Linked DNA regions of Homo sapiens. The protein of the gene in region 2 purifies or fractionates together with the protein of the main gene of each other region. This does not show direct contact. Each region holds a gene or a part of one and is shown on either strand. Other genes may lie near its edges.

What was found. Proteins that work in one complex are often made in the same cells at the same time.
Region 1: the proteins of TBC1D9 (region 2) and ABHD16A purify together in Homo sapiens (co-immunoprecipitation; 3 studies listed by BioGRID and IntAct, with this or other methods). This does not show direct contact.

Annotation. Positions count from the first base shown.
Region 1 is NC_000006.12:31,693,325-31,696,824, forward strand, and holds part of ABHD16A (phosphatidylserine lipase ABHD16A), read right to left. Parts: intron 109-3,500; coding exon 35-108; intron 1-34. UniProt on the Homo sapiens protein: Phosphatidylserine (PS) lipase that mediates the hydrolysis of phosphatidylserine to generate lysophosphatidylserine (LPS). LPS constitutes a class of signaling lipids that regulates immunological and neurological processes.
Region 2 is NC_000004.12:140,746,386-140,749,885, reverse strand, and holds part of TBC1D9 (TBC1 domain family member 9), read left to right. Parts: intron 1-3,500. UniProt on the Homo sapiens protein: May act as a GTPase-activating protein for Rab family protein(s).

The sequences.
Region 1 (3,500 bases), on a different chromosome or scaffold from region 2:
GGGGAGAGATACAGCAAAAGAACTGGGGCCTCACCGGCTGCTGGGTTCTTCCCAGTGGAAGTCGACTGGCCAGCTCCGGAAGTCAAAGTTGTAGTTGGCAAGCTGCCTCTGCAGTGGGCACGAGAGGCAAAGGGGTACTGAGAACTCAGGGGAGGCTCTCCTACCCACCCTCAACAACACCTTCGTTATCCAGGGGTCTGATCCCCACACATCATGGGGAAACCAAGCGGAGGTCAATACCCTCCCAATTCTCAGATGGAAAATTCTAACAGGACCAGAAAATCAGGGGAGATGGTATGCCCCATCAGGTATCAGGACTGGCCTGTCTGCCCTCTTCCAAGCTAAGAACCTAACACTCTGCTTTTCTAAAAAACTAAGTCTGACCCATCCCCAGGAGGAGTGGCTGAAGGTGCTAGTGCTTTTGAGTGACGGGTAGTAGGGGTCGCTGGCTGGTCACGGTCTATTCCCCACCTGGGTCCCTTATAGGGTGCTGTCTTAGAAGCTTAGAAATCTCCCAGCAGATCACACTGACAGACCCAAGGTTGAGTGAGACAGAGAGGAGGGAAGTCACGCCCACAGTGGGCTCCTCTGCCATGTGGGGCCACCCGTTGAAGGAAGCTCTGACTTCCATCCTCACAACTACATCCCTTCCTCAACTCCTGCAGCCATGGATCAGTGTTGCCCTACAGCCCATCCGAACCTCGGGCCACCCCACTGAGCCAGTCCACATGCCTTTTTTTTTTTTTTTGAGGCAGGGTCTCGTGCTGTTGCCCAGGCTGGAATGCAGTTGGTGCAATCATAGCTCACTGCAGCCTCAAACTCCCAGGCCCAAGTGATCCTCCTACCTTAGCCTCTGGAGTAGCTGGGACTACAGACATGTGCTACCATGCCCAGCTAATTTTTAAAATTTTCTTTAGAGACAAGGTCTTACTATGTTGCCCAGGCTGGTCTCCAACTCCTGGGCTGAAGCGATCCTCCTGCCTTGGCTTCCGAAAGTGCTGGGATTATAGGCATGAACCACCTCACCAGCTCCACGTTTTTTGACGGCAGTGGGAGCTGTGTCTTTTTTTTTTTTTTTTTTTTTGAGATGGAGTCTCACTCTGTCGCCCAGGCTGGAGTGCAGTGGCACGATCTCGGATCACTGCAAGCTCTGCCTCCCGGCTTCACGCCATTCTCCCGCCTCAGCCTCCAAGTAGCTGGGACTACAGGTGCCTGCCACCACCATGCCCGGCTAATTTTTGTACCTTTAGCAGAGATGGGGTTTCACCATGTTAGCCAGGATGGTCTTGATCTCCTGACCTCGTGATCCACCCGCCTCGGCCTTCCAAAGTGCTGGGATTACAGGTGTGAGCCACCGCGCCCGGCCTAGCTGTGTCTTAATACTTGACTATATTCGTCCCCCACCCCCTGAGCTCCTAGCACTCTATTTTGAGGGTTTTTATTTTCTGCACAGAAATTTTTTGACATTTCAAAAATAATTTGACTAACAGAGAGCAATAGAAAAATTATACAAAAAGGTAAATGGCAAAACAAAACAAGATGACTAAAAGCAAATTTCAGGCAGGCTTTGCTCAGACCTGCTCTCAAATCTGGACTTAGCCACTTTCTTGCTCTATGACTCCGAATGGGTCACTTAACCTCTTTTTGCCTCTGTTTTCTCACATTTACAAATAAAGGTAATAATGCCACCTCACTCAGCTGTTGTGAGGATCAGAAAGGGTGTGTGCCAAATGCTTCAGCCAGTAGCATAGTACAGGGCATCATTACGCAGCTCCATAGTGTGGAGTAGCCAGGAATGTGATGATGGTGGTCATAGCTGTTTGATCCTAGAAACCTCCCATAACAGAAAAGAGCTCTATGGGGCCCCAAAGCCCATCCTCAAAGATAATCACAGTCCAGCACCAGCCGGCTTGGCATAATTCCCAAGACACTGAGCCCTAGCTTTTCTCCCTCCTGGCACCATGCTGTACTCCCAGGCATAGGAGTGGACACACCTGTCCACCTTGTCCCATCCACAAACAAGGATAGCATGGTATTCAATGCATACAACAAAATTAAACATTTATAGAACTGAGCTGCTGTGATACAGAGAAAACTACCTTCTAAGAAACATTGTGGGCTGGGTGCAGTGGCTCACACCTGTAATCCCAGCACTTTGGGAGGCCAAGGCAGGTGGATCACCTGAGGTCAGGAGTTTGAGACCAGCCTGACCAACACAGCTAAACCCCATCTCTACTAAAAATACAATATTAGCTGGGCGTGGTGGCGCATGCCTGTAATCCCAGCTACTTGGGAGGCTGAGGCAGGAGAATCGCTTGAACCCAGGAGGCGGAGGTTGCAGTGAGCTGGAATCATGCCATTGCACGCCAGCCTGGGCAACAAGAGCGAAACTCCATCTCAAAAGAAAAAAAAAGAAACACTGTGGGCCAGGCACAGTGGCTCACACCTATAATCCCAGCACTTTGGAAGGCCAAGGCAGGCAGATCGTCTGCAGTCAGGAGTTCAAGACTAGCCTGGCCAACATGATGAAACCCTGTCTCTGCTAAAAATACAAAAATTGGCCAGGCACGGTGGCTCACGCCTGTAATCCCAGCACTTTGGGAGGCCGAGGCAGGCGGATCACAAGGTCAGGAGATCAAGACCATCCTGGCTAACATGGTGAAACCCCGTCTCTACTAAAAATAAAAAAATTAGCCGGGCGTGGTGGCAGGCGCCTGTAGTCCCAGCTACTCAGGGGGCTGAGGCAGGACAATGGCATGAACCCGGGAGGCCGAGCTTGCAGTAAGCTGAGATGGCGCCACTGCACTCCAGCCTGGGCGACAGAGTGAGACTCCGTCTCAAAAAAAAAAAAAAAAAATTAACTGGGCGTGGTGGTGTGCACCTGTAATTCCAGCTACTCAGGAGGCTGAGGCATGAGCATTGTTTGAACCCGGGAGTTGGAGGTTGTAGTAAACTGAGATTGTACCACTATACTCCAGCCTGAGTAAGAGTGAGACTCTGTCTCAAAGAAGAAAAAAAAAAAAAGAGGCCAGGAGTGGTGGCTCACGCCTGTAATCCCAGCACTTTGGGAGGCTGGGGCAGGCAGATCGCCTGAGGTCATGAGTTGGAGACCAGCCTAGCCAACATGGTGAAACCCCGTCTCTACAAAAAATACAAAAATTAGAGGGTGTGGGTGGTGCGTGCCTGTAATCCTAGCTACTCAGGAAGCTGAGACAGGAGAATCACTTGAACCTGGGAGGTGGAGAGTGCAGTGAGCCGAGATCGTGCCATTGCACTCCAGCCTGGGCAACAAGAGCGAAACTCCATCTCAAAAAAAAAAAAAGAAAAAGAAAAAAGAAACATTGTGGAATGTTTCTAGTTTAGCCAGTTCTTACAGGTGAGGGAGGGGGAAGATTGTTCTAGCAGAATATTCCATTAGAAGTGGTAGGGAGGAAAAATTCCTCAGGTGGACAGTTCACTAATGGAGGTGAGAAGGGATACAGCAATGTGCAAGCAAACAC
Region 2 (3,500 bases):
AGCATTTTATCATTATGAAATGTTCACATGTATTTCCAGAATTGCTTTTGTCTCATTCTTATGGTTAGAATAGATTTATTTGGTTAGTATTTTTATGGTATCTCTTTTTCATACTTTCACTTTCAACTCTTCTGTATCCTTATGTTTTAGATATGTCTTTTATAAATAGCAGATAGTTGATTTATTTCCTTTTTATAATGTTTAGTAATTTAATTGTTTTTTATAAATAGAGACGGGGTCTCACTATATTGGCCAGGCTGGTCTCAAACTCCTGGCCTAAACCAATTCCCCTACCTTGGCCTCTCAAAGTGCTGGAATTACAAGTGTGAGCCCCCATACCTGGGCAGTTGACTTTTTTCTTACTCAATTTTGAAAATTTTTGACTCTTAATTGTATTATTTAGTTAATGTCCATGTGACTTGGATTTAAATCTGCTCTTTTATTAAGTGCTTTATACTTTTTCTAGCTACCTTGTGTTCTTTGTATTTTGCCTTCCTTGCTTTTTGGTGGGATATGGGAATAATTCTTTTTAAGTTACACTTTTTGAGACTCTATTAGCTAGAAGTTTTATATTCATTTTATTATTCTTTTAGTGGTTATTCTGGACAATACAAATGCATTTTTGACTCATCCAATTATATTATTAACCAGTACTTTTTTTTTTTACCTTTTATTTTTTTAAAGGAAAGCCAGGGTCTCACTATGTTGCCCAGGCTGGTCTCAAACTCCTGGCTTCAAGTGATTCTCCCACCTCAGCCTCCCAAATTGCTGATATTAGAGGTGTCAGTCACTGCACCTGGCCATTATTTTTTATTTTTTAAATTGACATGTTAAATATTTTCTCATAGATTGCAAAGACCATGGAATACTTTAACTCCCCACCCCCAATTTACATACCATTTGTGTTGTAATAGTATATTTTAATTCTTAACATATTTTCAACCCAAGGACATGCAGTTATTACTATTTTTAAAGTCTGTATTCAGTTGGATCTCTACACGTTTACCATTTTTGTTTTACTTTCTTCTTCCCTCTCTGACCATTTTTCTGGAATCCGTTTTCCACTGCCAGAAAAACATCATTTACTCTTTCCTTTAGCGAGGACCTGCTTGTGACAGCTTTTCTCAGTTTTTGTTTGTCTCCAAATGTCTTTATTATGCTTTCTTTCTTGAAGGATATTTTTGTTTTGAATGGTTGGCACTTAATATGTTTTAAGCATGGTTGAGACATCGTTTCTTCTGAGGTAAACTGTCACTCTGAATTGTTGTTCTTTTGTGAGTAATATGTCTTTTTTCTCTAACTGCTTTTAAGGTTTTCTCTTTGACTTTGGTCTTCTGCAGTTTTAATATGATCTAGATAATTTGTGATGTTTAAAAATCCTGCTTAGGGGTAGTAGGTGTTCTTTAATATGTCTTTCGTTGGTTTTGTAAAATTCTCATCCACTGTCTCCAAATATGGCCTTTCCTTCATCCCCTCATCTCTCTTTCTGGCACTCCAATTACATGTATGTTAGACATCTCATTGTATCTTCTATGTCTGTTACCTTTTAAGTTTTACTTCATTTTGGCTACTTTTTTCTGATCTCTGTTCCAAGTTAATAACTATCTCCTTAACTATATTTAATCTGTTCAGCCCAACCACTTTTAATTATTTTTTTAAATTAAATATTCCTGTTTGGTTCATTGTCTAATTTTCAGTTGTTACAATTCTCAATCTTATTTTTTGTCTCTTTTGAGCAAGTATGGTTCTTGTAAGGCCTCAATTAACTTAAATATCTCGAGCTCTTTTAAGCCTGTTCTGCTGTCTGTTTTTTCTCCTAATTTTCATTCATGCTCTGATGTCATTTTTTATGTCTGGCTACTTTTGATTATGAACTGGACCTTGTACTTCTAGTTTGTGAAACTAATCTGAAGGAGAAGATAATGTTATTTTCTATGAGAAAAATTTTTTCTGCCAGTTGCAAACTAAAATCACTAATTTTTGGTACTGATATATTTTCTAGCTGAGCTCTAACTTGAGTGGATTTGCCTACTTAGGATTTACAGTTATATTAGGTCATAGCCCTCCATCGTCCCAACCCAAAGAGGAAAGGGTGGCATCATTAGCTGCCCTACCTCTTTGGTGGTACTAACTCCTATCCTGGTCCCCCCAGTCCAGGATTCTGTTAAAAGCACATCCAGACTCTCAGCTTACTCAGCAGCCCCTTATGGAAGGGGCACATGCCTCCCAAAATAATTGTTACTCTAAAATATAGAGCTCTCCCCCTTGGAGCCTGTCTTTTTTTCAGGTATGGTAACTTGTTGCTTTTTATTTTTTGATATTTTGAAATATATTTTGTCCAGTTTGTATAGTTGTCCTGATTAGTTGATATTGGTATAGATTATCTTATCTGACATTATAAGGTAGATGCTATTATTATCCTCAGTATGTAGAAAAGGAAACTAAGGCCTTAAAGAGATTGAGTGATTTACCCTAGGTCCCACACCTAATAAGTGTGAGCCTATTTGATTTTGTATTTATTATTCTTTTTTTTTTTGACAGAGTCTCTCTCTGTCATCCAGGCGGGAGTGCAGTGGCACACTCTTGGCTCACTGCAATCTCCACCTCCTGAGTTCAAGCGATTCTCCTACCTCAGCCTCCCAAGTAGCTAGGACTACAGGTGCATGCCACCATGCCTGGCTAATTTTTTTGTATTTTTTTAGTAGAGGAGGGCTTTCACCACGTTGGCCAGGCCAGTCTCAAACTTCTGACCTCAGATGATCTGCCCATTTAGGCCTCCCAAAGTGCTGGGATTACAGGCATGAGCCACCATATCCAGCCTATTTAGTATTCTTCTTTATATGCATTTATTTATTTATTTATTTATTTTTTATTTTTATTTAATAGAGATGGGGTCTCACTATATTGCCCAGGCTGGTCTCAAAATCCTGAGCTTAGGCAGTCCTCCTGCCTCTGCCTCCCAAAGTGCTAGGATTATAGGCATGAGCCACTGCGCCCGTCCTATTTAGTATTCTTTACAAGACTGATATGCTTTGGCTGTGTCCCCACTCAAATCTCATCTTGAGTTGTAGCTCCCATGATTTTCACTTGAGTGGGAGGGACCCAGTGGAAATAATTGAATCATGGGGGCGGTTTCCCCCATACCGTTTCATGGTAGTGAATAAGTCTCACGAGATCTGATGGCTTTATATGGGGAAACCCCTTTCGCTTGGCTCTTATTTCTCTCTTTGCTGGATGCCATATGAGACGTCCCTTTGCTCTTCCTTCATCTTCCACCATGATTATGAGGCCTCCCCAGCCATGTGGAACTGTGAGTCAATTAAACCACAGTCTTTTGTAAATTGCCCCCTCTCAGATATGTCTTTATCAGTAGCATGAAAATGGACTAATAGATTAATTATAATGGTGTATATTAATCTTATTTTCCTCTTATAACCACCCCCCATTTGAAAATCTAATAAAAGCTATGGACTCTACCTTGAGAAAAATGAAAGCACTCC